4 linked regions of the Homo sapiens genome follow. The protein of the gene in region 3 interacts with the protein of the main gene of each other region in a biochemical or structural test. Each region holds a gene or a part of one and is shown on either strand. Other genes may lie near its edges.

Region 1 (8,137 bases), on a different chromosome or scaffold from region 3:
AACAGCATGGTACTGGCATAAAAACAGACACATAGACCAGTAGAATAAAGAACCCAGAAACAAATCTGTACATCCACAGTGAGCACATTTTCAACAAAGCTACCAAGAACATACAGTGAGGAAAGGACAGTCTCTTCAATAAATGCTGCTGGGAAAACTGGATATCCACATGCAGAAGAATGAAACTACACTCCTATGTCTCACCGTATACAGAAATCAAATCAAAATGGATTAAAGACTTAAATCTAAGGCCTCAAACTATGAAACTATTATAAGAAAACATTGGGAAAACTCTCTAGGACATTGGACTGGGCAAAGATTTCTTTCAAATATCCCACAAGCACAGGCAGCCAAAGCAAACTTGGACAAATGGGATCACATCATGTTGAAAAGGTGCTGCACAGCAAAAGAAACAATCCACAAAGTGAAGAGACAGCCCACAGAATTGGAGTAAATATTTGTAAACTATCCATCTGACAAGGGATGAATAACCAGAATATATAAGGAGCTCAAACAACTCTATAGGAAAAAAAATAATAATCTGACTCAAAAATGGACAAAAGATCTGAACAGACATTTCTCAAAAGAAGTCATACAAATGACAAACAGGCATATGAACAGTTGCTCAACATCATTGATTATCAGAAAAATGCAAATCAAAACTACAATGAGATATAATCTCATCTCAGTTAAAATGTCTTTTCTCCAAAAGACAGGCTATAACAAATGCTGGTGAGGGTGTGGAGAAAAGGGTACACTCATATGCTGTTGGTGGGAAGGTAAATTAGTACAATCACTACAGAGAACAGTTTGGAGGTTCTTCAAAATACTGAAGATAGAGCTACCATATGATCCATCAATCCCACTGCTAGCATATACCCCAAAGAAAGGAAATCAGTATATCAAAGAGATATCCACACTTCCATGTTTACTGCAGCACGTTTCACAATAGCCAAGATTTGGAAGCAATCTAAGAGTCCATCAACAGATATATGGATAAAGAAAATGTGGTATGTATACACAATGGAGTACTGTTCAGTCATAAAATATAATGAGATCCTGTCATTCACAACAACATGAATGGAACTGGAGGTCATTATGTTAGGTGAAATAAGCCAGGCACAGAAACACAAACATTGTATGGTCTCACTCATTTGTAGAAGCTAAAAATTAAAACAATTGAACTCATGGAGTTAGATAATAGAAAGATGGTTACCAGAGGCTGGGAAGAGTAATAGGGAGGGTCTGTGTGTGGGGGAGAAGATGGGATGGTTAATGGGTACAAAAGTGGAGTGAATTAGATCTAGTATTTGATAGTACAACAGGGTGACTATAGTCAATAATTTAATTGTACATTAAAAATAAGAGTATAATTGCATAGTTTGTATTACAGATGATCAATGCTTGAGGTGATAGATGCCCCACTTACCCTGATGTGATTATTACACATTGTATACCTGTATCACAATATTCCATATACCCATAAATATACCTACTATGTGCCCACAAAAATTAAAAATATACTAAAAAAAGAAAAACAAAATGATGCAAAGGAAAATAAAAAATAAGAATAAAAATAATGGGTCAGGCACGGTGGCTCACACCTGTAATCCCAGCACTTTGGGAGGCCGAGGTGGGTGGATCACCTTAGGTCAGGAGTTCAAGACCAGCCTGACCAATATGGTAAAACCCTGTCTCTACTAAAAATACAAAAATTAGCTGGGAGTGGTGGTGGGCACCTGTAATCCCAGCTACTTGGGAGGCTGAGGCAGGAGAATTGCTTGAACCTGGGAGGCAGAGGTTGCAGTGAGCCAAGATTGTGCCATTGCACTCCAGCCTGGGTGACACGGCGAGACTCCCTCTCAAAAACAAAACAAAACAAAACAAGGCATAAAATTAATGGCAAAACAATTAATGTCAAAAACAGTAATTACTTTTGCACCGATCAAACAGTTTGTTGAATAAGTTTATTCCTGTTCTGAATAACAAGAACTCCTCCATTGTTTGGTCCATTGATCCAGTGAGACAGAAGGAGAAACTGAGTCCCTAAAAGAGGGAATGAAAATTGGCAAGAACCTCATAAAGCTGTTGACAGTTCTACTCTCATCATGTCCATTCCTGCTTAAACCCTCAGTGCTCATCCATCTCCTGTCGGGTACCAACAGGCCTCCATGTTGCTGAGAAATTATAGCTACTTTTTACCATGTACCTTCCATGTGCCAGAGATACTTCATGCTTTGAATATATCTTCATTAATCCCTCCTATAACGGCGGAAGTCAGTTGCATATATGTATGTAGGTGTATATGTATGTATACACACAGAGTAACAGGAACCGTGGCCAGCACTCCCTGGGCTCTTTTCTCAGCTGCTCCAAACTTAGTTTAGTTCCTGACAACACTTATTCTAGGACAAAGAATAATTCTGAAGGCCTATACATTTCTGGTTGAACATCCTAAACAGCCTGCCCCTCTCACCTCTGGAGGACTTTTGGACCTGGGAGTCTCCAGAATTGCAGACCTCCCCGACACTGGGCTCCCTACCCTCCTGGCTAGGCTGTAGTCCTGGCTATCCCAGCCACACCCAGCCGTCATCCTAGGTCAGGTGCCAGCATGGGGGCAGCCGGGCCCCTTCCCCTTCTGGGTAACTCCACAGTCACGTCCACAACCCAGCCTCCTCCCAGGTAGGGGGCAGCCGGGCCCCTTCCCCTTCTGGGTAACTCGGCAGTCAGGTCCACACCCCAGCCTCCTCCCAAGCAGGGGGCCAGCACCGGAAGCGCAGCTGGTCTTGGGTTGAGGGATCCCTGGTGGGAGAAGGGGCAAATGGGACCGGCTCAAGGATGGAGACTGGAAGGGGCTCTGCAACCCTGGGGCAGGGGAGAGAGGTCCCCTAGGAGGGCAGGGGTCCCTTGATCTAGTGGGGTTCACTCACCTTTACAGGGGACTCAACGCTGGTAGCCAGCTCCCTATTTCACTTTCAGTTTCCGCTCAGAAGCAAGTCTGAGAGGAAAGGGGAGGGAGGAGGAGGAGCCGTGGGAGGAGTGAGGGAGGAGCAGTGGGAGGAGCAGAGCCTTGAAAGGGTGTGTGGAGAAATGCGGCTGAGAAGAGAAGTCAGAGTTGAGCTGGGGGAGGCTTCAGAGGCTCTGCATGCCCAGGAGGCTTCTCTGAGACTGGGAAGGAGTGGAAACTCAGTAGCCCGTGGTCCTGGTTGCGCGCTCCCTCCCATGTCTTCATTATCTGATTTGGTAAAATATCTACAAGACGGGGGAGTCCGGGCTGCTTTCTTTGACACTGGTCATCACTCCACACCTAGACGCTATGTCCATGTCTGGAAGATGCTTTTAAGGAAGTTTTGATGCAGAGAAGAGTGGCCGGTGCTCTTCCTCGCGTGCCACCATCTGCTTACTTCCAGAAGCTAATTATTTTCATGTGACTGATGTGACTAATATTTTTTAACGCCTGCAGGTGAGTGATTTATTTCGCATGACCCCAAGGTGAGTGTCCCACCAGTGAGTGGTGAGAAGGAAATTGACATTTGACAACCAACTGTGTTCTTGTCACTGAGCTAGGGACATTCTCAGGTTATATTATTTTTATTTTTAATCGTAAAAATATAGAACATAAAATTTACCAAAGTAATTTTTTTAATTTTCAATCTTGTGTGTCTATAGTAGGTGTATATATTTGTGGGGTACATGAAATATTTTGATACAGGTAGAGCATACAATCCGTAATAATCATATCAGGGTAAGTGGGGTATCTATCCATCACCTCAAGCACTTATCATTTGTGTTATATACAATCCAGTTATATGCTTTTAGTTATTTTAAAATGATAAATTATCATTGACTGTATTCACCTTGTTATGCTATAAAATACTAGATCTTATTCATTCTCTCTCATGTATTTTTGAACCCATTAATCATTCCCCACTACCCTTCCCAGCCTTTGGTAACCATCATCCTCTCTATCTTCATGAGTTGGATTGTTTTAATTTTTAACTCCCACAAATAAGTGAGAACATAACAATTTGTTTGTTTGCCTGTGTTTGGTTTATTTTACTTAACATAATAATCCCCAATTCCATCCATCTTGTAGCAAATGAAAGGTTCTCCTTCTTTTTATGGCTGAATAGTGCTCCATTGTGTATGTGTACCACACTTTCCTTATCCATTTATCTGTTGATGGACACTTACGTTGCTTCCAAATCTTGGCTATTGTGAATAGTGCTGCGATAAACATGGGAGTGCAGATATCTCTTTGATATACTGATTTCCTTTCTCTTGGATATATACCTAACAGTATTTCTTCTGGGTATATACCTAGCAGTATCCAGTAGGATTGCTAGATTACATGGTAGCTCTATTTTCAGGTTTTTTTTTTTTTTTGAGGAACCTTCAAATTGTTTGCCATAGTGTTTGTACTAATTTCCATTCCCATTGACAGTGTATGAGGGTTCCCTTTTCTACATATCCTTGCCAGCATTTGTTATTGCCTTTCTTTTGGTTAAAAGACATTTTAACTGAGGTGAGATAATATCTCGTAGTTTTGATTTGCATTTCTCTGATGATCAGTGGTGTTGAACACATTTTCATATATCCATTTGCCACTTGTATGTCTTCTTCTGAGGAATGTCTATTCAGATCGTTTGTCCATTTTTGAATCAGATTATTATATTTTTTTCCTATAGAGTTGTTTGAGTTCTTTGTATATTCTGGTTATTAATCCCTTGTCAGATGGATAGTTTGCAAATATTTACTCCAATTCTGTGGGTTATCTCTCTACTTCATTGTTTCCTTTGCTGTGCAGAAGCTTTTTAACTTGATGTGATCTCATTTGTCCAGTTTTGCTTTGGTTGCCTGTGCTTATGGAATATTTGAAAGAAATTTTTGCCCAGTCCAATGTCCTGGAGAGTTTCCCCAATATTTTCTTGTAGTAGTTTCATAGTTTGAGGCCTTAGATTTTTTTTTAAATTATACTTTAAGTTCTAGGGTACATGTGCACAACATGCAGGTTTGTTACATATGTATACACGTGCCATGTTGGTGTGCTGCACCCATTAACTCATTTACATTGGATATATCTCCTGATGCTATCCCTCCCCCCTCCCCCCACCCCAGGACAGGCCTCAGTGTGTGATGTTCCCCTTCCTGTGTCCATGTGTTCTCATTGTTCAATTCCCACCTATGAGTGAGAACATGCGGTGTTTGGTTTTCTTGTCCTTGCAATAGTTTTCTGAGAATGATGGTTTCCACTTTCATCCATGTCCCTACAAAGGACATGAGCTCATCCTTTTTTATGGCTGCATAGCATTCCATGGTGTATATGTGCCACATTTTCTTCATCCAGTCTATCATTGTTGGACATTTGGGTTGGTTCCAAGTCTTTGCTATTGTGAATAGTGCCACAATAAACATATGTGTGCATGTGTCTTTATATCAGTATGATTTATAATCTTTTGGATATATACCCAGTAATGGGATGGCTGGGTCAAATGGTATTTCTAGTTCTAGATCCTTGAGGAATCACCATACTGTCTTCCACAATGGATGAACTCGTTGACAGTCCCACCAACAGTGTAAAAGTGCTCCTGTTTCTCCATATCCTGTCTATCACCCATTGTTTCCTGACTTTTTAATGATCGCCATTCTAACTGCTGTGAGATAGTATCTCATTGTGGTTTTGATTTGCATTTCTCTGATGGCCAGTGATGATGAGCATTTTTCCATGTGTCTGTTGGCTGCATAAATATCTTCTTTTGAGAAGTGTCTGTTCATATCCTTTGCCCACTTTTTGATGGGGTTGTTTTTTTCTTGTAAATTTGTTTGAGATCTTTGTAGATTCTGGATATTAGCCCTTTGTCAGATGAGTAAATTGCAAAATTTTTCTCCTATTCTATAGGTTGCCCATTCACTCTGATGGTAGTTTCTTTTGCTGTGCAGAAGCTCTTTAATTAGATCCCATTTGTCAATTTTGTCTTTTGTTGCCATTGCTTTTGGTGTTTAAGACATGTAGTCCTTGCCCATGCCTATGTCCTGAATGGTATTGCCTAGGTTTTCTTCTAGGGTTTTTGTGGTTTTAGGTCAGAATAACCAATGCAGAGAAGTCCTTAAAGGACCTGATGGAATGGTGCTATCCAGCCCAGATACTATGCTTTTCCCATGGTCTATGCAACCCACGGACCAGGAGATTCCCTTGGATGCCTACACCACCAGGACCCTGGGTTTGAAGCACAAAACTGGGTGGCTGTTTGGGCAGACACTGAGCTAGCGGCAGGATTTTTCATGCCCCAGTGGCGTCTGGAACACCAGCAAGACAGAACTGTTCACTCCCTTGGAAAGGGGGCTGAAGCCAGGGAGCCAAGTGGTCTAGCTCAGTGGATCCCACCCCCATGGAGCCCAGCAAGCTAAGATCCACGGGTTTGAAATTCTTGCTGCCAGTGCAGCAATCTGAAATTGACCTGAGATGCTTGAGCTTGGTGGAGTGAGGGGCATCCACCATTACTGAGGCTTGAGTAGGCGGTTTTCCCCTCACAGTGTAAACAAAACTGCTGGGAAGTTCGAATTGGGTGGAGCCCACCAAAGCTTCGCAAACCTGCTGTAGCCAGACTGCCTCTCTAGATTCCTCCTCTCTGGGCATGACATCTTGAAAGAAAGGCAGCAGCCCCAGTCAGGGGCTTATAGCTAAAACTCCCATCTCCCTGGGACAGAGCATCTGGGGGAAGGGGTGGCGGTGAGCACAGCTTCAACAGCCTTAAACATTCTTGCTTGCCAGCTCTGAAGAGAGCAGTGGATCTCCCAGGACAGTGCTTGAGCTCTGATAAGGCACAGACTGCCTCCTCAAGTGGGTCCCTGACCCCTGTGCCTCCAGACTGGGAGACACTTCCCAGGAGGGGTCAACAGACACCTCATACAGGAGAGCTCTGGTTGGCATCTGGCGGGTGCCCCTCTGGGACAAAGCTTCCAGAGGAAGGAACAGGCAGCAATCTTTGCTGTTCTGCAGCCTCTGCTGGTGATACCCAGGCAAACAGGGTCTGGAGTGGACCTCCAGCAGACCTGTAGCAGAGGGACCTGTTAGAAGGAAAACTAACAAACAGAAAGCAATAGCGTCAACCTCAACAAAAAGAATGTCCACACAAAAACCCCATCCAGAGGTCACCAATATCAAAGACCAAAGGTAGATAAATCCATGAAGATGAGGAAAAACCAGTGCAAAAAGGCTGAAAATTCCAAAAAACAGCACACCTCTTCTCCTGCAAAGAATCACAACTCCTTGCCAGCAAGGGAACAAAACTGGATGGAAAATGAGTTTGATGAATTGACAGAAGTAGGCTTCAGAAGGTGGGTAATAAGAAACTCCTCTGTGCTAAAGGAGCATGTTCTAACCCAATGCAAGGAAGCTAAGAAACTTGAAAAAAGGTTAGAGGAATTGCTAACTAGAATCATCAGTTTAGAGAAGAAGATAAATGACCTGATGGAGTTGAAAAACATAGCATGAGAACTTCATGAAGCATACACAAGAATCAATAGCCGAATTGATCAAGAGGAAGAAAGGATATCAGAGATTGAAGATCAACTTAATGAAATAAAGCATCAAGACAAGATTAGAGAAAAAAGAATGAAAAGGAACAAGCAAAACCTCCAAGAAATATGGACTATGTGAAAAGACCAAACCTCCATTTGATTGGTGTACCTGAAAGTGACAGGGAGAATGGAACCAAGTTGGAAAACAGTCTTCATGATACTGTCCAGGAGAACTTCCCCAACCTAGCAAGACAGGCCAACATTCAAATTTGGGAAATACAGAGAACACCACAAAGATACTCATCAAGAAGAGCAATCTTAAGACACAATAGTCAGATTCACCAAGGTTGAAATGAAGGAAAAAATGTTAAGGGCAGCCAGAGAGAAGTGTCTGTCCACACAGGGAAGCCCAACAGACTAACAGCGGATCTCTCTGCAGAAACCCTACAAGCCAGAAGAGAGTGGGTGCCAATATCAACATTCTTAAAGAAAAGAATTTTCAGCCCAGAATTTCATATCCAGCCAAACTAAGCTTCAGAAGCAAAGAAGAAATACAAACCTTTATAGACAAGCAAATGCTGAGAGATTTTTGTCACCACCAGGCCTGCCTTACAAG
Region 2 (7,223 bases), on a different chromosome or scaffold from region 3:
CATTTGCAGAGAGCTTGCTATTTGGAGAGATTGTAGGAACAGTAGGTCTAAAGATACATTCTAGGAAAACAGAATTTTGAGGTAGTTGCAAATTATGTGAGATGTCTTTTTATCAAGTTACATACCGGTCAAATTAGCCAAGGTTAAGTTTGTAAGAGAAGCTGAAAGAATGCATATAGTGTTCACAAAGTAAAGGAGATGAGGTACGTAGGTACCACCAAGAAGTAACCAGGTAATAAAGAAAGAAACGTGTAAATTTGTTTCCGAAATGTTACGTACCAGGAAAAGTAGGGGAAAAAGCCTCATGAGACAGATGAGAAATGGTAAAACTGATTGACATAGGAAACTGTATGCACAATGATAAATCATAAAGCATAGAGGGTTGAGTGGGCACTCTGTTACTTGAAATTTGTGATTTATAAACAGTGTTATATGCAATAGATTTATGAGTAAAGACTGTCTTTATGTCTGTTCTTTCAATTCTGTCTTTACCTTTAATACATAATTTTGGTCATTGTTTTTGAAGAATTGCTTTCGTGTAAGGATCATCTCTTAATGGCAATGTAGTTAAGATCTTTGATCTGTTTTGTGTTTAAGAATACTGTACAGGTAAGATCCCATAGACTATTGGAGCAGTTATTAGAACATAGTAGATAATACCAAATTTAGTGAGTCTCAGTTTCTATTCAGTGGGTCAAGAAAAAAAATAGCTTTTAAACTCTTTTGATTTCCTATAGGTTAGCTACACAAACTGCAATTAGGAGGTAGTGACATTTATTAGAAAACTTTAAAAATTATCTTTTTCCTTTTGCTGAAGAGGGATGATGAATGTCTCCATTATAAGGATAAAGTTGTTTAAAATGGGGACAGTTTATACCTTATTTCTTCTTCTTTTATAGGTTTTAAAACGACCAGAATATTTTGGGAAGTTTGGTAAAATACATAAAGTTGTCATCAATAATAGCACATCATATGCAGGCTCACAGGTAACTAATTTTAGGGATTTTTGCTTTTCCTCCCTATGGTCTGGGCTTGACCTGGGCTGTTCCAAAGGAAACTTTGCTCTCTCTGATTAGAAAGCTTGAGGGACAAGGACTTAAGCAATGTAGTGACCTCTGTTGGTGGGGTGGGGGATTTTTTGCTGCTTATTTGACCCTTCTAGGACTTAACAATTAAGAGGGAAATAGTAAAACAAACATTTAGTGATGGAGTGAAAGGGAGGGGGAGGTGAGTCTGTTATCAGGCAATGTGATAAATAGATGAGGATTCGATAGTGATTTCTAATCTGTAATATTTTCAGATATTGAAAACTTAATAGTGTCTTTGTTATGCTGCTGTTATCAGATAGAATAGTTTTCCAGATTGCATTTATTTTTGAGAATGTAATTTGACATAGTCTTTAAGTCTTATTTTTTAATCTAAATTTTAATTTTTTTATAACCTTGACGAGCCTGTCAAATGACTGTCTAAAAAAATAAATCCCAAGCCAAAGTAATATTTTATTCACATATATTACAGTATTCTTAAAATCAGATAAAATTCATTGAGTATTATTACTTTCAAATGAGCTAGTTTAGTGTTTAATCAAAACTGCCACTACTACTACTAATTATTGTCATTAGTAATAGTAGTAGTCAGGGTCTTTAGAATTCCCTAGGTTGCAGTAGAATTTTTTTAGTATTGTTTAATTTTTAACTAATAACAGTGGAATGGGATGTTTTCACTTTAGGGTCCAAGTGCCAGTGCTTATGTAACCTATATCCGGTCAGAAGACGCTCTCAGAGCCATACAGTGTGTCAACAATGTGGTAGTAGATGGCAGAACACTTAAGGTAATATAGTCCTCTTGATTCTTTTTTTTTTTTTTAAGGAAGACGAGATAAAATATAGTAAGTAGAGGAGAACTGAGCATTTATATATTAAATTTGACAGTTAATTTGAAGAGTCTGTCTTAGGGTCCATACCATCTATTATAGCTAATTTGTTTACTGCTGGTTTCTGTAGGGTCCTCTTTTACCAGATAGGAATAAACACATTCATTATCGGGGATAATCTTTTAAAATATCGCATTTTTACATATATCTTATTTTGTGAAAATAGTACCATTATTTTCTTCAGAAATAGGTAGTCCTTAAATATATGGACATTGATTCCAGTTTCAGTGAAGAGTCCCACTAAGCAAAGCTTTACTGTTAGTGGAAGGAGGATGGCATAATTAGAAAAAGGAATTTGCCTTCTTATGTGTCTAACCACTCATAACATGGAACAGATTTTTTTGTCTATCTCCTCTCCTTATATCTAGGGAAGATTTGGGTGTCCAAGTTTTGGAAACCATAGACAGATGTTTCCTTTAGTTCTTCCAAATGAGCCTCATCTATAATAAATCCTGCTAATAAGAGTTTAGTTCTCTAGTATTTGCAGCCATACTTTTTGTTTTGTCATGTTTGTGCCTCATTTTAGGTGACTTGAAAACACTAAACATGGAGATTCTCATTGTGTTGTCAGTTCACATTGAGTCTTCTTTTCCTTTACCCCTCTTCCTCCTGCAGGCATCTCTAGGTACAACAAAATACTGCAGTTACTTCTTAAAGAATATGCAGTGTCCAAAACCTGACTGCATGTATCTTCATGAATTGGGGGATGAGGCGGCCAGCTTCACAAAAGAGGAAATGCAGGTAGTAAAGTCATGTGAATTATCAACTTTGCAGAAAAGGGAGTACTTTTTTTTTTATTAGTTAACATTGCAAAAGCAAAAACTAAGGATTTGATTTTGTAAAAACTGATATTACTTTAAAGTAGCATTTGCCAAATGAAGTGTTTAATGGAAGGTCAGTTCTGCAGGATATTGTTACAATAAAAATGTGTCTGTGGTCAACTAAGTTTGAAATGCTAGATTAATGAAGATGAACAGGTTTCTTTGCTTTAAGACTTTTCAGAGTCCTTAATATGCTAATACAGATCCACGAAGGGAATTTACAACCAGAACTTAGTTGACCAGGAAAACACTTTGGGAAATGCTATTTTAAGGGGAATGTCAACAAAATGAAAGCTAAGTGGGATATTGTAATTATTTGTTAAACCAATCTATACTCTTTACAGAGCTTGCTAGAAAATAATACTCTGTCAAATGATGCTGATAAACTAATATTATTTTTACAAAATTATTCTCCCCATGCAAGTGTCCACTGAGTCAGTATCCTGTAAAGGGTGAATTGAAGGCTTAATATCCTATGTTCTTTTTTACATTTCCTCTTCTCCTGTCTCCTTTCAATTTGTAGTATAAACATGCCTTAACAAGTAAAAATGTTGACCATACGACATATTAAATGAGGATTATACCAAAGCACAATGCTGCACTTCCCTATTGTAGATGAGGACTTCAGATTGTTGCTGTGGACTTTTCAGGAATACTTCTCATTTAGAAGGTGGGGGGCATTCATTGCTACCTTTCATTCTCCAGGTCAAACTAGAGAAAGTCTGGTAGGGGCTCCTTTAAGAAAAGATTGTTAAATGGAGTATTACCTTTTTTGACTTGGAGCTAGTACAGATTAAATCCCATTATAATAAATACATCAGAGTTTTCTTGATAGTATGGTCTTTATGATTCAAAAACAATGTTAAAATAAGGTCTATCTGATATTTAATAAGGACAGATGACTTAACTGATTTCTTAATGCTTTTTTTGTTTGTTTTTTGGATGAAACCTTCTTGAATGAAATCTAAGGTAGAACCATTTCAAAATTTCAAACTAAATTTTAATTAGTAGAGGGTATACTTTATTCATATTTCCTATCAATTTCTGTCTATCAGAATTTACAAGTCCCACCCAGTTGATCTCATTTAAAGTAATATTAAACAATAAAATAAAATGTATGGGCTGTCCTTTGGAACTTGTTTGTAATGGGATTTAACCTGTCTTTATGAACTGCCCCTGTAGAGTCATTTTAATATCAAGTTGAGCTCTTTGTGGCTTTCCACAGATATTAGTGAAAGCCGTATCTCCTGAAGTATTGATTCCAGAAATAATTTTCAAGACTTTTCATGTTTTAAAAATGTAAATTTCACATCTAATGTATTTTTAAAAATAATTTAAAACTAATTTCATAATGTTGTCCTGAATTTATCTTGCTCTTCTTTAGCTGAGTTTAAAATTACTTTAAAAGGGGATTTTTTGTTGTTGTTGTTAAAACACTTTCTTGATGTAGGAAAGAAATTTGAATAAATTTTATGGCAAAAATCAGAAAATCTTTCCTTGTTACTGCGTAACTCAAAATTTAGTGCCATAGGAAATATTTATAGGTCCAATAGAAACAAGCAAGTGGCCTCTCAGAACAGGGAACGATGCATTGTGCAGTATATATGACACAATTATGCTCAGTTAAGTGCAATTGCCCTCACTTGTTATTGTTTTGATTTGTTCCGTTTTGGTTTTGTTGTATAACATCTATTTAGACCATAATTTAAAAAAATTAACATCCCTGAAGGTAAGTAAAACTATTCTTCCAGTCTAGATATACATGCAAATAGTAAAATGTTACTCAAAGTAAGTTCATTATCATTTATTTTTGTGTCTAATTAGCTTCCACAGGCAATCTTTGCCTAATTTTTCCCATAATATTTGTGACATTGCCTTTTGATGTACACCTACCCAGCTAGAGTAAGCATAGCATTCTTTTGTGTATAGAGCAGAGGTTGGCAAACTTTTTCTGTAAAGGCCAGTTAGTAAATATTTTAGGGTTTCTGAGCTATGTATGTAGTCTTCTGTCACAACTACTTTACTCTGCCTCTGTTGCACTACTACATCCTGCCTTTGTAGCAGAATGGCAGCCAAATACAATATGTAAATGAATGGGCATGACCATGTTCCAGTAAAACTTTATTTATAAAAACAGGCAACTGGCTGTAAATTGCTGACCCTGGGTCTAGAGTTTAAAATACATTAATTTTTATTTTACTTTTGATAACCATAGAAGAAAAGAGAAAGCAAAAACTAATTCATGGAAGTTTTACTTAGTGTCAAGATAATGAAGAATATAGTAAAACTGTTCATCTATGTATTACTTCAAGTGCTAATCTCCAAATTAAAAAGGAGACTGATGAATTTTGGCTGATTTTCAGAAAACTCAGTGTTACAAGACTTAATTCTTACATGAAAGACTTGGAAGTAGGTTTAAAGTGGACCTTACACTTTTTGAGCTAGCAAAAATGTTCTTCCCTTAATATGCTTTTCTGTACAATAAATGGGTTGATGAAATGCCTTAATTTAATTTATCAGATATATATCATATAATTTTGTTGGAATGACTTTCATTGATCTAGAAGTTTTGTGATATCCTCACAGGTTTCTCTTACTTGTTTTATTTAAAAATTTATTTAAAATTTATTTAATATTTTATTTTTTAAAAATATTATTTATTTTATTTAAAATATATTTAATAATTCAGAAGATTATTCAGTATTTTATACCAGCCATTTTGTGAATCCCACTGCAGTTTTAATTTCTTCTTTCGTTAGGCGGGTAAACACCAAGAATATGAACAGAAGCTACTTCAAGAATTATATAAATTAAATCCCAATTTTCTTCAGCTATCTACGGGTTCAGTTGATAAAAATAAGAACAAAGTGACACCACTGCAGAGGTACGATACGTAAGTATTGATATTGATAGTCAGACATCTTACCTTCTTATCAGTTGATCTTCTCTTTTCATTTTAGATCTTTTTCAGGCAAAATCCTTGTTGACAAGGTCTGTCATTTATGCAGAATTGTTTAGCTGTATGGGAAATGTTGAGTCACAATTTCTGGGTTTGAATGCTTGCTGCCTACTTTTCCCTGGTAACACTTCAGACTAGCTTTTTGATGGGTTCACCTTTTGTGGTGATTTGCAGACTACTCTGAGCCCAGGGAATACTTTCCTTATTAAAGAGAAAATTAAGGGATTTTAGGTTTTAAAAGGCTCTGATTACCTAATTGAGGTCCCCCTTGATATAATTAGGGGGAAAATACTATAAAAGGGAAAGTGGGTGTTATCTGAAGGAAGCCTTGTGTGTTGGGGACACAGATATTCAAGGATATCTAGTTCCAGGAATCACTAAAGTCATTTAAATCCTGTAAATGAACAGGGAGTATCCCATATTCAGAATCTTACTTATCTTAGGAGACCAGTCATCTCCTATCTTCCATCTCATTATGGTTTTGGGTAAACTATATTGTGTCAATGCTTAAATAAATTTATGGTCTTCAGTAGAGAGTCTCATTCTGATATGTTGATCTTCTTATCTTAGATTATATTTTGTTATGGCCTGTCAGAAAATCATATTAATAAATATAATTTGGGAATTTTATTCTATCCTGAACTTTCTTTAAATTTGATGTGTTAGGTTTTTTGTTCTTTTTTATTTGATAAGTTTAACTTTTATCAAATGAATTTTAAAAGTAAATGTTGTAATTAATTTATGTTGATGATCTTTTTTTAAAATTCCAAAGTTAAATTTGTTTGAATGTTGTCCTAATGTCTAGGTGTTAAATATTATAGCCCAGTGTCTGTTTGGTGCTAAAATGATGTAAGAACTATTTTCAAACATAGCTAATAATAACTACATGGATTATTGTTTGAGTCCATTTCTTCAAAAACACATTCTTTAAATTTTGAAGTCTGTGTTTATTCATTTTAAGAGTAAAGATTATTTAAATTATTAAAAACTAAATTAGACACATATATATGTGTATGTAAATATAAATAAATATAAAATAGGCCACAAAGCGAAACATAAAGTTACTGTATAGTAAACTATGTAAAATTTGTTTATATCAAAGCTAAGAATAAAAGCTAAGTCAAAACAGATCTTTCTGGTTTGACAAGCTTTGATCTTTTCCTTTAATCTTTTGTACCCACCCTTTTCTAGCCCTGTATGGTTATTTTATGGCAAACCATATGCTATTACTTATCTTATTCGTTGCCACCTCTGTAGTGCTTGGTATAAGAATGAAGTTATTGTAGTAAACAGTGGTTTATTTTAGATGCTTTTAACATTTATGCACATCATTGTTTGCATTAAAAATGTTGTCATTCTAATTTAAGTCAAATTCTGGGTTTATAGCCCTTGGTGATTTCAGAGCAAAAATTTAAAATTTAGATGATCTCTTTGAGATAACATTTGTTGTCTTCTGAATATAAAACTATATGTTTTTATTGAAGGAAATGTGAAAAATTTATGAAAGCAT
Region 3 (7,223 bases):
TGGGAGGCCGAGGTGGGTGGATCACCTGAGGTCAGGAGTTCGAGACCAGCCTGGCCAACATGGTGAAACCCAGTCTCTACTAAAAATACAAAAAATTAGTCGGTCGTGGTGGTGCATGCCTGTAATCCCAGCTACTTGGGAGGCGGAGACAGGAGAATTGCTTGAACCTGGGACGCAGAGGTTTCAGTGAGCCGAGATTGCGCCACTGCACTCCAGCCCGGGCAACAGAGTGAGACTCCATCTCAAAAAAACAAACAAACAAACAAAACAGCAGGGGACAGTGAGAATATTTGATAGTATGAGACTGAATCCCCAGAGACCTACACTTGAATGCACAGATCTCAAGAGAGTCACATTTACCAACTGTTCAAAAGAAAAGAAAGCTGGGTGCGGTAGCTCGCAGCTGCAATCACAGGGCTTTGGGAGGCAGAGGCAGGAGGATCACTTGAGCCCAGGATTTCAAGACCAGCGTAGGAAACATGGTGAGACCCTATTGCTACAATTTTTTTTTTTAAATTAGCCAGGGGTGTAGGGGCATGTACCCATAGTCCCAGCTACTCAGGAGGCTGAGGTGGGAGGATCCCTTGAGCCCAGGAGTTTGAGGCTTCAGTGAGCTGCAATCGCGCCACTGCACTCTAGCCTGGGCAACAGAGTGAGCCCCTGCCTTTAAAGAAGACCAGAGGAGAGGAAGACGAGGGAGAAGGGAGGGAGAGAGGGAGGGGAGGAGGAGGGGGAAAGGAAGGGAGGGAAGAGAGAAGGAAACAGATATATGGCCATTAAATCTTCAGCTTATTTGTTTCTTTCTTTTCTTTTTTTTTTTTTTTTTTTTTTTGAGACAGAGTCTTGCTCTGTCACACAGGCTGGAGTGCAGTGGCGTGATCTTGGCTCACTGCAAGCTCCACCTCCCGGGTTCACGCCATTCTCCTGCCTCAGCCTCCTGAATAGCTGGGACTACAGGCACCTGCCACCAAGCCCGGCTAATTTTTTGTATTTTTAGTAGAGACGGGGTTTCACCATGTTAGCCAGGATGGTCTCAATCTCCTGACCTCGTGATCCGCCCGCCTCGGCCTCCCAAAGTGTTGGGATTACAGGCGTGAGCCACCGGGCCCGGCTGCTTACTTCTTTCAGGATGTACATTTCTTCCTGCTTACCAGATCTTTGCAGGAAAGTGAAAAAAAATTTACTAGTACATTAAAATCTGGATGTTTTAAAATAAAGCACAGATCTCTACTTTATTTTTATACTAAATATCAACATTAAAATCTGGATGTTTTAAAATAAAGCACAAGTCTCCACTTTATTTTTACACTAAATATCAATAACATGTGGTACTGAGGGATTTGGGTACCAGGATAGTCAAAAGGAGCTCAAAAGTTTCAAAAGGCCAACAGTTTCTCTCTTCCTTCTTCTAAGATTAAATTCTGACTCCTTATAACAAAAATAAAATGACAAAAGGACATTTAGCTATCCAATCATACTTGATGTACTCTTATGTGGGGTTCATCAGAAAGATCTGATCAATACTTGTTTTTTTTTTTTTTTTAGAGACTGGGTCTCAACCTGTCATCCAAGCTAGAGTATAGTGGCCAAATCATAGCTCACTGCAGCCTCAAACTTCTGGGCTCAGGTGTTCCTCCTGCCTCAGCCTTGTGAGTAGGTGGGACTACAGCCATGAGCCACCACTCCCAGCTAATTTTTAGTTTTAAAGATGGGGTCTTGCTTTGTTGCCCAGGCTGGCATAAAACTCCTGGCCTCAAGTGATCCTCCAGTCTCAGTCTCCCCAGTAGCTGGGATTACAGGCATGAGCCACTGTGCCTGGCTCTTCTTCACTGTAGTTTTGATTTGTATTTCCCTAATGACAAATGATGTTGAGCATCTTTTCGTGTGCTTACTAGCCATCTTATCTGGAGAAATGTCTACTCGGATCCTTTGACTATTTTTTAATTGGTTATTTATTTTTATACTGAGTTATAGGAGTTTTTAAACAGCTGGGTGGGGTGGCTCATGCCTGTAATTCCAGCGCTTTGGGAGGTAGAGGTGGGCGGATCACTTGAGGTCAGGAGTTCAAGACCAGCCTGGCCAACATGGTGAAACCCATCTCTACCAAAAATACGAAAATTAGCTGGGCGGCGGGGCACGTGCCTATAATCAGCTACTCGGGAGGCTGAGGCAGGAGAACTGCTTGAACCCACGAGGCGAAGGTTATAGTGAGCCAAGACCGCACCACTGCACTCCAGCCTGGGTGACAAAAGCGAGATTCCGTCTCAAAAAAAAAAAAAAAAAGTTTTAAAAATATACTGGATATATGTCCCTTATGAGATATATGACTTGCAACAATTTCTTCCATTCTATATGTTTTATCACTTTCGTGATGGCATCATTTGCAGCCTGTATATATTTAATTTTGATGAAGTCTAATAATATCTATTTTTTTCTCTTACTGATTAGCTTTGGGAGAGTTTGTTTGTTTTTTTGAGACGGAGTTTCAGTCTTGTTGCCCAGGCTGGAGTGCAATGGCGTGATCTCGGCTCACTGCAGCCTCTGCCTCCCGGGTTCAAGCGATTCTCCTGCCTCAGCCTCCCAAATAGATGGGATTACAGCTCCCACCACCACACCTGGCTAATTTCTTGTATTTTTATTTTTAGTAGACGGGGTTTCACCAGAGTTCAAGGCCAGACTGGTCTTGATTGAATTCCTGGCCTCAGGTAATCCACCTGCCTCGGCCTCCCAAAGTGCTGGCATTACAGGCGTACAGACGTGAGACACCACACCCAGCCTTTTTTTTTTTTTTTTTTTTTTTCGGAGACAGAGTCTCACTCTGTCACCCAGGCTGGAGTGTAGTGGCGGGATCTCGGCTCACCACAACCTCCGCCTCCCAGTTCCAACGATTCTCCTGCCTCAGCCTCCTAGGTAGCTGGGATTATAGGCAGGCGCCACCGCGCCCAGCTAATTTTTGTATTTTTAGTAGAGACAGGGTTTCACCATGTTGGCCAGGCTGGTCTTGAACTCCTGGCCTCCCAAAGTGCTAGGATTACAGACGTGAACCATCGCACTCGGCTGTGGGAGAGTTTTATTTAACTCTCCAAAGGGAACAATTTTTCAACCTGAGAAAGAAATGTATAGTGCTAACTATGGCAGAAGCAAAGCAAAGACAAATTACTTTAGCATGCTAAAGAAAACTTCAAAATTGAAATCAAATCCCCTGACTCCAACCACTTTTAATTAAAGATTTTCAGCCATTCTTAACTTGGAGGAATTTACCTAAAAGCACTTTTCCAACTGAATAGAAAGAGTACACTGATGTATGTGGCCCATATGATACAGTGGAAGGACAAACTAGAATCAGAAAACCTGAGAGTGAGTTCACATGGAGAATCTCCATGAGATTCTCATGGGACTTTTTTCTAAAACAATTTAAAATTTCTACTCCACTCACCTAAATGAGTTGTTGTAAGGCTTAAATGAGACAACGTGTGTAACAGCACTTACTAAATTATTTTGTATAGTTTAAGTACTTAGCCTGCCTTGTTTGGTACCAAATACTATAGTTACTCACGCTAGGTAAGTCAGAATATAATAATGTAAATGAGTTTTTTCATGACATGTACTTAGACTCATAATTTATAATATTTATCTATTTGTAAAGTAATCCTTGTGAAAGGGCCTTGCTTTGATTCTTCAGGATTTAGCAGACCAGACACATTCTTTTTTTCCGTTTTTTGTTGTTGTTGTTGTTGTTTTTGTTTTGAGAGAGTCTCGCTCCCGTTGCCCAGGCTGGAGTGCAGTTGTGCAACCTTGGCTCACTACAGCCTCAACTGCCTGGACTCAAGCGATCCTCCCACCTTAAACTCCTGAGTAGCTGGGGCTACAGGCATGCACCACCAGGCCAGGCTAATTTTTGTATTTTTTTGTAGAGAGAGGGTTTCACCATGTTGCCCAGGCTGGTCTCGCACTCCTGGGCTCAAGTGATCTGCCTGCCTCAGCCTCCCAAAGCACTGAGATTACAGGTGTGAGCCACTGGGCTGGGCCCAGACACAACATTATTAAGAAAAATCAGGAAAAAACAATTTGAGGCCAGGCGCAGTAGCTCACGCCTGTAATTCCAGAACTTTGGGAGGCCAAGGCAGGTGGATCACCTAAGGTCAGGAATTCAAGACCAGCCTCGCCAACATGGCGAAACCCCGTCTCTACTAAAAATACAAAAACTAGCCAGGTGTGGTGGCAGGTGCCTGTAATCCAAGCTACTTGGAAGGCTGAGGCAGGAGAATGGCATGAACCCAGGAGGCGGAGCTTGCAGTGAGCCGAGGTCACGCCACTGCACTCCAGCACGGGCAACAGAGTGAGACTCCATCTTAAAAAACAAAACAAACAAACAAAAAAATATTAAACATAAGCTAATTTAACCATGTACTCATTTTGGTCTGAATCTACATATTTACACAAGTGTTTGTAAGTATGCATACTTTAAAATATTTGTTAAATGTTACAAATTTTTTTTTCTTTTTTTTTTTTTTGAGAGTAAGTCTCACTCTGTCACGCAGGCTGGAGTGCAGTGGCACAATCTCAGCTCACTGCAACCTCTGCCTCCTGGATTCAAGCAGTTGTCTGCCTCAACCTCCCAAGTAGGTGGGATTACAGGCGCCTGTCACCATGCCTGGCTAAATTTTTTTCTATTTTTAGTAGAGGCGGGGTTTCACCATCTTGGCCAGGATGGTCTCAAACTCTGACCTCGTGATCCGCCCGCCTCGGCCTTTCAAAGTGCTGGGATTAGAGGCATGAGCCATGACGCCCCGTCCTGTTTTTATTTTTTGAGACAGCGTCTCACTCTGTCGCCCAAGCTGGAGTGCAGTGGCATGGTCCTGGCTCACTGTAAACTCTGCTACCCAGGCTCAGGCTAAAGCAAACCTCCCACCTTAGCCTTCCAAGTAGCTCGGACTACCAGCATGCACCAACATACCCGGCTAATTTTTTTGTGTGTTTTTTGTAGAGACAGGGCTTCACCATGTTGACCAAGCTGGTCTTGAACTCCTGGGCTCAATTGATTCACCTGCCTCGGTCTCCTAAAGTGCTGGGATTAGGGACATGAGCCATCACACCCAACCAAATGTTACAGTTTTTTGTGAATTAGTTTTACATCACATAGCATAGTCTCATTCAAATATCCCCTCTTTAAAAAAAGTTAAAAGACACTATATGGGAAAAAATTATGTTGAAATGAAGTGGAACAAAGAGGAAATTATCATCTAATGTATGCATTAAGATCATCTTTTTAGACAAAATTAAGCAGATAAATTGGACATTAAAAATAAAGACCTGCTTTTGGCCAGGTGTGGTGGTTCATGCCTATAATCCCAGCACTTTGGGAGGCCAAAGCGGGCGGATCACCTGAGGCCAGGAGTTTGAGACCAGCCTGGCCAACATGGCGAAACCACGAATCTACTAAAAATACAAAAATTAATCAGGCGTGGTGGCATGCACCTGTAATCCCAGATACTCGAGAGGCTGAGGCACGAGAATCACTTGAACCCAGGAAGCAGAGGCTGCAGTGAGCTGAGATCACGCCACTGCACTCCAGCCCGGGCTTGACAGAGCGAGACCCTGTCTCAAGAAAAAAATAAATAAAGACCTGATTTCGCAAGTATGAGTCAGTAGAAAGTCAGACACAGACACACATACTATCATCCTTAGTATTATCTTACTCAAGAATAATAGCTAGTTGTAGGTAAAAGCTTAAATATTTCACTCCAGGAAAATACCCAGAAGGGATGAAGGTAAGGTAGGAGAGGACTAGAACAACTACATAGCCAATACCTGGCAGAAGATTCAAAATGTAATGAACAACACAGATGATAATGGGATGAACATAGAGTTGCTCCCTTCATGGGCCACTAAGGGTTAAACACTGCCTCTTCCCTATACCATAATTGTTTCTTCACACAAAATAACCACTGTTATGCTATTACTCCATTATTCCTTTTAAATACTTACTATCATCTCCAACAGGACCTGCTGAACACTGTGCTGGAGGGTCCCGTGCCAGATCATTCAATTCCTACAGAAAAAAGAAAGAAAAGAAATATATTCAACATAAATGTACCTTTTATCCATTACTAAAGTTTATATTGTTACCAATATTCTCTGTCCTGCTGGTGAAACTCTCTTAAGAGCATTCCTTCAGAGTAAGAGATGAGTAGATTGGTGAATCTTTAAGGTATTTTGGATTCTTCAAGGCAATGTGTATTTTTTTAAAGTGGGTCATTTTTGCTTTGTTCAGAGCTTAGCAAATAAATACAATCAGGAAGGTAAAACATGTGTCATGTATTATGGGCCGGGCGTGATGGCTCACACCTGTAATCCCAGCACTTTGGGAGGCTGAGGCGGGCAGATCACTTGAGGTCAGGAGTTCGAGACCAGCCTGGCCAACAAGCCTGTCTCTACTGAAGATAGAAAAAATTAGCTGGGCATGGTGATACATGCCTGTCATACCAGCTACTCAGGAGGCTGAGGCAGGAGAATCCCTTGAACCAGGGAGGCGGAGGTTGCAGTAAGCCAAGATTGCACCACTGCACTCCAGCCTGGGTGATAGAGCGAGACTCCATTTCAAAAAAACAAACAAACAAAAAACATGTATTATGTATTAAAGAGCCAAAAATACTGTTTTTTTTGTTTGTTTGTTGTTTGTTTTTTGAGACGGAGTCTTGCTCTGTCGCCCAGGCTGGAGTGCAGTGGCGCAATCTCAGCTGACTGCAAGCTCCGCCTCCAGGGTTCACGCCATTCTCCTGCCTCAGCCTCCCGAGTAGCTGGGACTACAGGTGCCCGACCCAAACGCCCGGCTAACTTTTTGTATTTTTAGTAGAGACAGGGTTTCACCGTGTTAGCCAGGATGATCTCAATCTCCTGACCTGGTGATCCGCCCACCTTGGCCTCCCAAAGTGCTGGGATTACAGGCGTGAGCCACCGCGCCTGGCCAAAATTGTTTTAATGTAAACATTTCATTTATTATTTTTCAAAAAAAAAATTTAAGGCCAATTTTTGTACCTCAAAACTATTAGGTTACACTTGGGACAAGCTCCTAAAGTCATAAATGTTCCAAAATTATACTGGACCATCTGACAAGTTGATATGCTTTCAGTGGAAGTCCACTACCAGGGTTCTAAAAGTAGAAAAAACTTTGAAGGAATATATTTTAGGCTGGGCACAGTGGCTCATGCTTGTAATCCCAG
Region 4 (7,223 bases), on a different chromosome or scaffold from region 3:
GTGACTTATTCATACATTATAGAAACAGACCAAAAAAAGATTCCAGAAAAATCAACCTTACTAAGAGACAATCTTTGGAAATTTAAGAAAAACAGCCTAAGTAACATTTTCAATAACCTTCCCCTTAAAGAATCTCGATTCCTTAAAGAGAGTTGCCAGTCTCTTTTCTACCACTGCATTGCTTCTAGCCAGAGCAGAGACTGGCATACTGAAAATGCTCATGAAAAGTGACCCAAGGTCAGGCTCAGTGGCTCACAACTACAATCCCAGCACTTTGGGAAACCAAGGTGGGAGGATCACTTGAGCCCAGGAGTTTGAGACCACCCTGGGCAATACGGTAAGACCTTGTCTCTCCAAAAAAATATAAAAAATCAGCCAGGGATGGTGACATACCCCTATAGTCCCAGCTACTTAGGAGGCTGAGGCAGGAAGCTCAATTGAGCCCAGAAGGTACAGGCTGCAGTGAGCCGTGATGGCACCACTGCACTCCAGCCTGGGTAACAAAGTGAGACCCTGTTTCAAGGGAAAAAAAAAGAAGAAGAAGAAGAAAAAAAACAAATTTGGAGAAAGCACACAACTTGGAAAAAAAAAAAAGATTATTTGCTGTTAAAAAGCAACCAAGGAGGCCGGACATGGTGGCTCACGTCTGTAATCCTAGCACTTTGGGAGGCTGAGTCAGGTATATCACTTGAGGCCAGGAGTTCAAGACCAGCCTGGTCAACATGGCAAAACCGTCTCTCCTAAAAATACAAAAATTAGCTGGCCGTGGTGGTGTGTACCTGTAATCCCAGCTACTCAGGAGGCTGAGACATGGGAATCGCTGGCACCCTGGAGATGGAGGTTGCAGTGAGCCAAGACTGTGCCACTGCACTCCAGCGTGGGCGACAGAGCGAGACTCTGTCTCAGGGGGGAAAAAGAAAACAACAAATGGTTTGCTTTGTTCTAGTTCAATTTTTTCAACGATTTAAAAAGTTTATAGGACTCAAGGAACCAAAACTGTATCTGATGGCCTCAAGGGTTATGTTTGAAGGCTTGCTGACTTGCAGAAAACTCAAGCTGACTGTTCAAGATGTTCAGGGCAAAAACTGCCTAGCTTCCATGCGTGGGTCTTACCCATGACAAAATGTGTTGTGTGATTTAAAAATGGCAGACCACCCGGGTGGATCACTTGAGGTCAGGAGTTCGAGACCAGCCTGGACAACATGGCAAAATCCTGTCTCTACAAAAAATACAAAAATTAGCTGGGCGTGGTGGTGCATGCCTATAGTCCCAGCTACCCAGGAGGCAGAGGCTGCAGTGAGCTGAGATCACGCTACTGCATTCTAGCCTGAGTGACAGTGAGAAACCGTCTCAAAAAAAAAAAAAAAAAAAAAAAAAAAAAAGGCAGACCATGATTGAAGCTCATGTTGATGTCTAGACTACCAATGGTTAAAGAAAACCTCAGCACCAACAGGTCTAAGATGATGGAAATCATGACCCAAGGCCGGGCGCGGTGGCTCACACCTATAATCCCAGCACTTTGGGAGGCCGAGGCGGGCGGATCACGAGGTCAGGAGATCGAGACCATCCTGGCTAACATGGTGAAACCCCGTCTCTACTAAAAATACAAAAAATTAGCCGGGTGTGGTGGCGGGCACCTGTAGTCCCAGCTACTCTGGAGGCTGAGGCAGGAGAATGGTGTGAACCCAGGAGGCGGAGCTGGCAGTGAGCCAAGATCGCACCACTGTACTCCAGCTTGGGCAACAGAGCGAGACTCCATCTCAAAAAAAAAAAAAAAGAGAGATGCAGACAAATAACTTGAAAGAAGTGGTGGAGAAAATTATTCCAGACAGCACTGGAGAAGACACAGAAATGCCTGCAAATCTATTTATCCGCTCCACGATGTCTTCTCTGTGAGGAAAGTTAAAATGCTAAAAACACTCAGGTTTGCATTGGGAAAACGTAGGGAGCTTTGTGGTGAAGACAGCAGTTCTGGAAAAGCTACTGGGATGAGCTAGGTACTAAAGTGAAAAGTCCTATTTATGATGAAAAAAGTTTATATACGAAAGTTGCATAAAAAAAAGCTATGTAACAGCCAGGTGCAGCGGCTCATGCTTATAATCCCAGCACTTTGGGAGGCCAAGGCGAGTGGATCACCTGAGGTCAGGAGTTCAAGAACAGCCTGGGCAACATGGTGAAACCCCATCTCTACTAAAAATATAAAAAATTAGCCTGGCATGGTGGTGCGTGCCTGTAGTCCCAGCTACTCAATAGGCTGAGGCAGGAGAATTGCTTGAACCCGGGAGGCGGAGGTGAACTGAGTGAACTGAGATCGTGCCACTGCACTCCAGCCTGGGTGACAGAGTGAGACTCTGTCTCAAAAAAAAAAAAAAAAAAAAATACAAAAAATGAGCCGGGCATGGTGGCGGCTGCCTGTAGTCCCAGCTACTCTGGAGGCTGAGGCAGGAGAATGGCGTGAACCCAGGAGGCAGAGCTTACAGTGAGCCAAGATCACGCCACTGCACTCCAGCCTGGGTAACAGTGCAAGACTCTGTCTCAAAATAAATAAATAAATAAATAAATAAATAAATAAATAAATAAAAGCTATAAAACAAAGAAGTTTTAAACAGGCACTTCACAAAAGAGAAAAATAAACATGAAAAGGTGTTTGATCCCATTTGTAATAAAAAAGCACAAATTAAAACCACAATGAGACACCACTGGACAAGCATCAGAATGGCTAAAATTAAAAGTGGCCATGAGGATGTGGAGAACCTCAAACACTGGCATGAATGTGAACTGCTCCCTCTTTAGAAAAGTCTGGCATTTATCCAGTAAAAATCAAAGACACTCACACCTCGGGACACAGCAGTGATGCCTTTTCTAGGCTATGCAATGCCAAAAATGAAAGTTCATTTTGAGGGAAACTAATCAAATGAGATGAACAAAGTCTCTCACTGCATCTTACCGCATTTTTCATTTCCCTTCATTTTTCAGGGGCTTTGAATTCCTTCGAAAGTTGGAAGAATGTGCACACCTGTATGCAAAGTTTCCAGTCTTTTTTTCTTTTTTGAAGAAGACAGGGTCTCACTATGTTGCCCAGGCTTGCCTTGAACTCCTGAGTTCAAGTGATCCTCCTTGCTCAGCCTTCCCAGTAGCTGGGACCACAGGCACAAAGTTTAGAGGGTTCCCTGATGTTCTGACGGCTACCTCTGGATCCTGGTATCCAGGGATTCCTATATTACAGGTACAGAGCTACTGGAGCTAAAGCAGTGCACTCAAACTATTCGACAGGTCCTGGCGGAACTGGTAAGGAAGGTTACCCCGCTTCCAGAATGAATACATTTATCCATTTTATACTCTCCTGCAGGTGCAGCCTAGGGTCACCCTGAACACACGATCCATCTACAGATGCCCCTTATCCTCAGTGACTAGCATTAGAGGCCTCCCAAACAGATCTGCTCAGAGGCAGAATTCCAAACTCAAGTATATGTCTCAGTGTAAATTCATAAACTGGCACTTGGACTTATTAAAATCAAAAATAAGTAGAGAATGATTAGCAAGAGCTATCAAGTCCAAAGCAGTTATTTTGTGGCTGACAACACTGAGGACAGTGTGAGATAAATCCACTGATCAAACTGACCAGTAGATCTGAGAGACCAGAACCTAGGACTCCTGCTTCCCAAGCCAGGAGCGTCTCCCTTTTACCTATCAGCTCTCCCTCTGGCCACCCATCCACTTTCCAGGGTAGCTCCCTCAACACCAATATTCCTGGTCCCCGGGTCTCCCAATGACTGCAGATCTTATAAAGGTTAACCAGACAGCCCCAGGTTAATTGGGAGTAGGACTGCCAACATGGAGCCCTAGCCCAGGGAAACAGAAGAAAGGTAGGGAAGTTCAGAGAGGAAGCCCTTTTAGCAAGAGCAGCTTAGTCATCAAAACAAAACAAAGCTGGCCAGTGTGGTGGCTCACACCTGTAATCCTAGTGCTTTGGGAGGCTGAGGTGGGTGACTGCTTGAGCCCAGGAGTTCAAGACCAGCCTGGGCATCACAGTGAGACCCTGTCTCTACAAAAATATTAAAAAATCACCACCACCACCCGACCCAAATTTAGTAGTGTATGGTGGCATGCACCTGTAGTCTCAGCTACTCAGGAGGATAATGTGGGAGAATCACTTAAGCTCAGGGGTTGGAGGCTGCAGTAAGGTGTGATCATGCCACTGCTCTCTAGCCTGGGCAACAGAGTGAGACCCTGTTTCTTTTCTTTTCTTTTTTTTTTTTTTTGAGACAGAGTCTTGCTCTGTCGCCCAGGCTTGAGTGCAGTGGCGCGATCTTGGCTCACTGCAACCTCCGCCTCCTGGGTTCAAGTAATTCTCCTGCCTTAGCCTCCCGAGTAGCTGGGATTACAGGTATGCATCATCACACCTGGCTAATTTTTGTATTTTTTTTTTTTTTTGAGATGGAGTCTCACTCTGTTGCCCGGGCTGGAGTGCAGTGACGTGATCTCGGCTCACTGCAACCTCTGATTCCTGGGTTCAAGCGATTCTCCTGCCTTAGCCTCCTGAATAGCTGGGACTACAGGCGTCCGCATAATTTTTGTATTTTTAGTAGAGACAGGGTTTCACCATGTTGGCCAGGCTGATGTCAAACTCCTGACCTTGTGGTCCGCCCACCTCGGCCTCCCAAAGTGCTGAGATTACAGGCGTGAGCCACCGCGCCCAGCCTGAGACCCTGTTTCTAAAGCAAAAGAAAACACAAGTGTGAAAGGGGAAATGATGTTGGTTTGTCAGCCAACAAAAGCCAATCAATCATTGTCTTCCTGCAGTCAAAATCCTAGCTCTCTCCTCAGGGTCTGGCAGAGAGAAGGCCAAGAAGACTGTGGTGAACACTGAGTATTCAAGAAAAACAAAAAACAAAAAACAAAAAAACTTCTGCAGACACCACTTTCCAGCTTTAATGAGCAACTGGTGAAACCAAGGTGTCAGCTGGGAAAAAGAAAGAGGGGAAAAATCAGTGACTGTGCTGTAGCTGCCAGCTAATATACCAAATTAGTTATCTTTCCAGAACTCCATGCAGGACACAGGGATGATAAGCAAAGTCATATGTGTGTATGTACCTCAGAAAACACGTTAATGAGACCTAAGCAGGGACCACGTACAACTAAACCCACTGCTGCTTATCTCAGATGGTTTTCCATCCCTGTCCTTTTCTTTGCATTGAAGTCTTGAAACTTCTCAGTATAACCCTATTCTGAAGTTCTCAGCACAACTAAGAAGCAACACCTATGGGGTGTCCCTATTCAGATACCCAGGCATCAGCCAAACAGGATAACCCCAACACCAGTGAGCCCAGGGCCAAGGCGAAGACTCAGCTACTAGCAGCCCCCACACCCCACAGTCCTCCTCAGCAGCACTTACCACCCCACTGCCAATGCTGCCAAGTGTGCCCCCACCCCGACCTGTGTTCCGAGCACACTGTCAGAAAACACTCAAGTGGCATCTTCCAGAGGCAAACTTGCCCTTAAGATGCTGACCAGATTCCCAGACCTGCATGCACCATGAAACAGGTCTATCAGAAATAGCTTCTCCGTGTGTCCTCTGACCAGACAAGGCCTCCCTCCTGGCAGGCAGGACACGTATACACACGTCCCCTGCAGTCTGTAACCGGTGCCATGAGACAGGGACACAGGCAGCCTCCTGGGCTCCAGCCTCCCTGGCATCAGGACGCAGCAGGCATCAGGTGGCAATGCAGGGAGCCTGCATCCCCTGAGGCCATGCTAAGTAGCAGGCACTTTTGGAACTTGAGAGATTTCCCATGGGCAGTGCTGAGCCAACGTTCCCTTTCCTTTCAGTTGGGAGGGCATACACTCACAGTGACTGGGCACCATTCTAGGTGTCAGGCACTCAAACACGGCATCTGTTGTAAGATGTCTTACACCATGCCCTGCTGACATGAGTGACCTGTCCCCATTTCATGGAAAGTGAATGAGGCTAAGTCACATGCCCAAGGTCACACAGCTGGTGTAAACTGTGGAATCAGGGACTGAAGACAGATGTGGGGGTCTTGAGATTCTCCCCAAACCACTTTTGTGCCCAGGTGTGGCAAGGTCAGGTTACACAGACCTACTCCATAGGCGACAAGGCTATAACAAATGATTTTCCAGAAACATTTTTCATTTTGGGCTCTCGTCACTGAATGCATGAACTTCTTTGTTATTATTATTGTTACTGTTTATTTTCTTTCTAAAAGCTCAATTCCACAAGATGCATGAACTTCTTTAGCATAAGCTGTAACCTTGACTTGGAGTCTGTGACCAAGGCTGTCAGATGCTGGCACTGGCCAGGGACCCATACCCAAGAAACAGCCGACTCTCACACTCCAACACTTACCACAACAGAGTCATTGTGAGTCAGATCAACCACCACAGGCTCTAAAGATTCACAAGTGAGGTCCACAATTTCATCTCCAGCTTCAAAAGAAAGTATTTCAACAAGCATTAAGATTAAGAGGAAAGTAAGGTTGTATCCCTCTACACTTTAGTATGACTGCTAATGTTATAGGCTTACCCCAAACTAAAACAATCCTGAAGTATACACTGCAAAGAGCACCAGGACCAACACCTCCCTCAGGAGGGAAAGCCAGTAACCACCCTTCCAGAATTCTGCTCTGAGTGGGGAGGTATGGTTTTTACAAATGTACCTGGGGGGTTATGTATGTGTGCGCATGTGCATACCTCTATTCCACGGCATCCCACTTCCACACGGCTATGCCTCTGTGCCCCATCTGGGAGAACGCACCATGCATGCCCAGCCCCAGGCCTTTCTCTTTGGGATGGACTAGCCTGAAACCTCTGCTCCTCCCAGCAGGTGAAGCTGACCACTCTCACTTGGCCCAAGGACCAAAAGTCAGGCTTAGCTTAGTAACTTCATCGGTTAATCTAGGGCAAATTCTTTTTTTTTTTTTTTTTTTTTGAGACAGAGTCTCGCTCTGTCGCCAAGGCTGGAGTGCAGTGGTGCGATCTTGGCTCACTGCAACCTCCGCCTCCTGGGTTCAAGCAATTCTCTGTCTCAGCCTCCCGAGTAGTTGGGATTACAGGCGCCTGGCAGCATGCCTGGCTAATTTTGTTTGTATTTTTAGTAGAGATGGGGTTTCACCATCTTGGCCAGGCTGGTCTTGAACTCCTGACCTTGTGATCCACCCACTTCAGTCTTCCAAAGTGTTGGGATTACAGGCGTGAGCCACCGT

The links.
Region 1: the proteins of UBE2D2 (region 3) and TRIM21 form a complex in vitro, tested with the Homo sapiens proteins (10 studies listed by BioGRID).
Region 2: the proteins of UBE2D2 (region 3) and CNOT4 form a complex in vitro, tested with the Homo sapiens proteins (5 studies listed by BioGRID, with this or other methods).
Region 4: the proteins of UBE2D2 (region 3) and RNF4 form a complex in vitro, tested with the Homo sapiens proteins (8 studies listed by BioGRID, with this or other methods).

Annotation. Positions count from the first base shown.
Region 1 is NC_000011.10:4,390,703-4,398,839, forward strand, and holds the start of TRIM21 (E3 ubiquitin-protein ligase TRIM21), read right to left. Parts: upstream 3,001-8,137; 5' UTR 2,931-3,000; intron 1-2,930. UniProt on the Homo sapiens protein: E3 ubiquitin-protein ligase whose activity is dependent on E2 enzymes, UBE2D1, UBE2D2, UBE2E1 and UBE2E2.
Region 2 is NC_000007.14:135,408,939-135,416,161, reverse strand, and holds part of CNOT4 (CCR4-NOT transcription complex subunit 4), read left to right. Parts: intron 1-899; coding exon 900-986; intron 987-1,729; coding exon 1,730-1,831; intron 1,832-2,548; coding exon 2,549-2,674; intron 2,675-5,513; coding exon 5,514-5,647; intron 5,648-7,223. UniProt on the Homo sapiens protein: Has E3 ubiquitin ligase activity, promoting ubiquitination and degradation of target proteins. Involved in activation of the JAK/STAT pathway. Catalyzes ubiquitination of methylated RBM15.
Region 3 is NC_000005.10:139,599,201-139,606,423, reverse strand, and holds part of UBE2D2 (ubiquitin-conjugating enzyme E2 D2), read right to left. Parts: intron 6,053-7,223; coding exon 5,989-6,052; intron 1-5,988.
Region 4 is NC_000004.12:2,499,883-2,507,105, reverse strand, and holds part of RNF4 (E3 ubiquitin-protein ligase RNF4), read right to left. Parts: intron 6,448-7,223; coding exon 6,368-6,447; intron 1-6,367. UniProt on the Homo sapiens protein: E3 ubiquitin-protein ligase which binds polysumoylated chains covalently attached to proteins and mediates 'Lys-6'-, 'Lys-11'-, 'Lys-48'- and 'Lys-63'-linked polyubiquitination of those substrates and their subsequent targeting to the proteasome for degradation.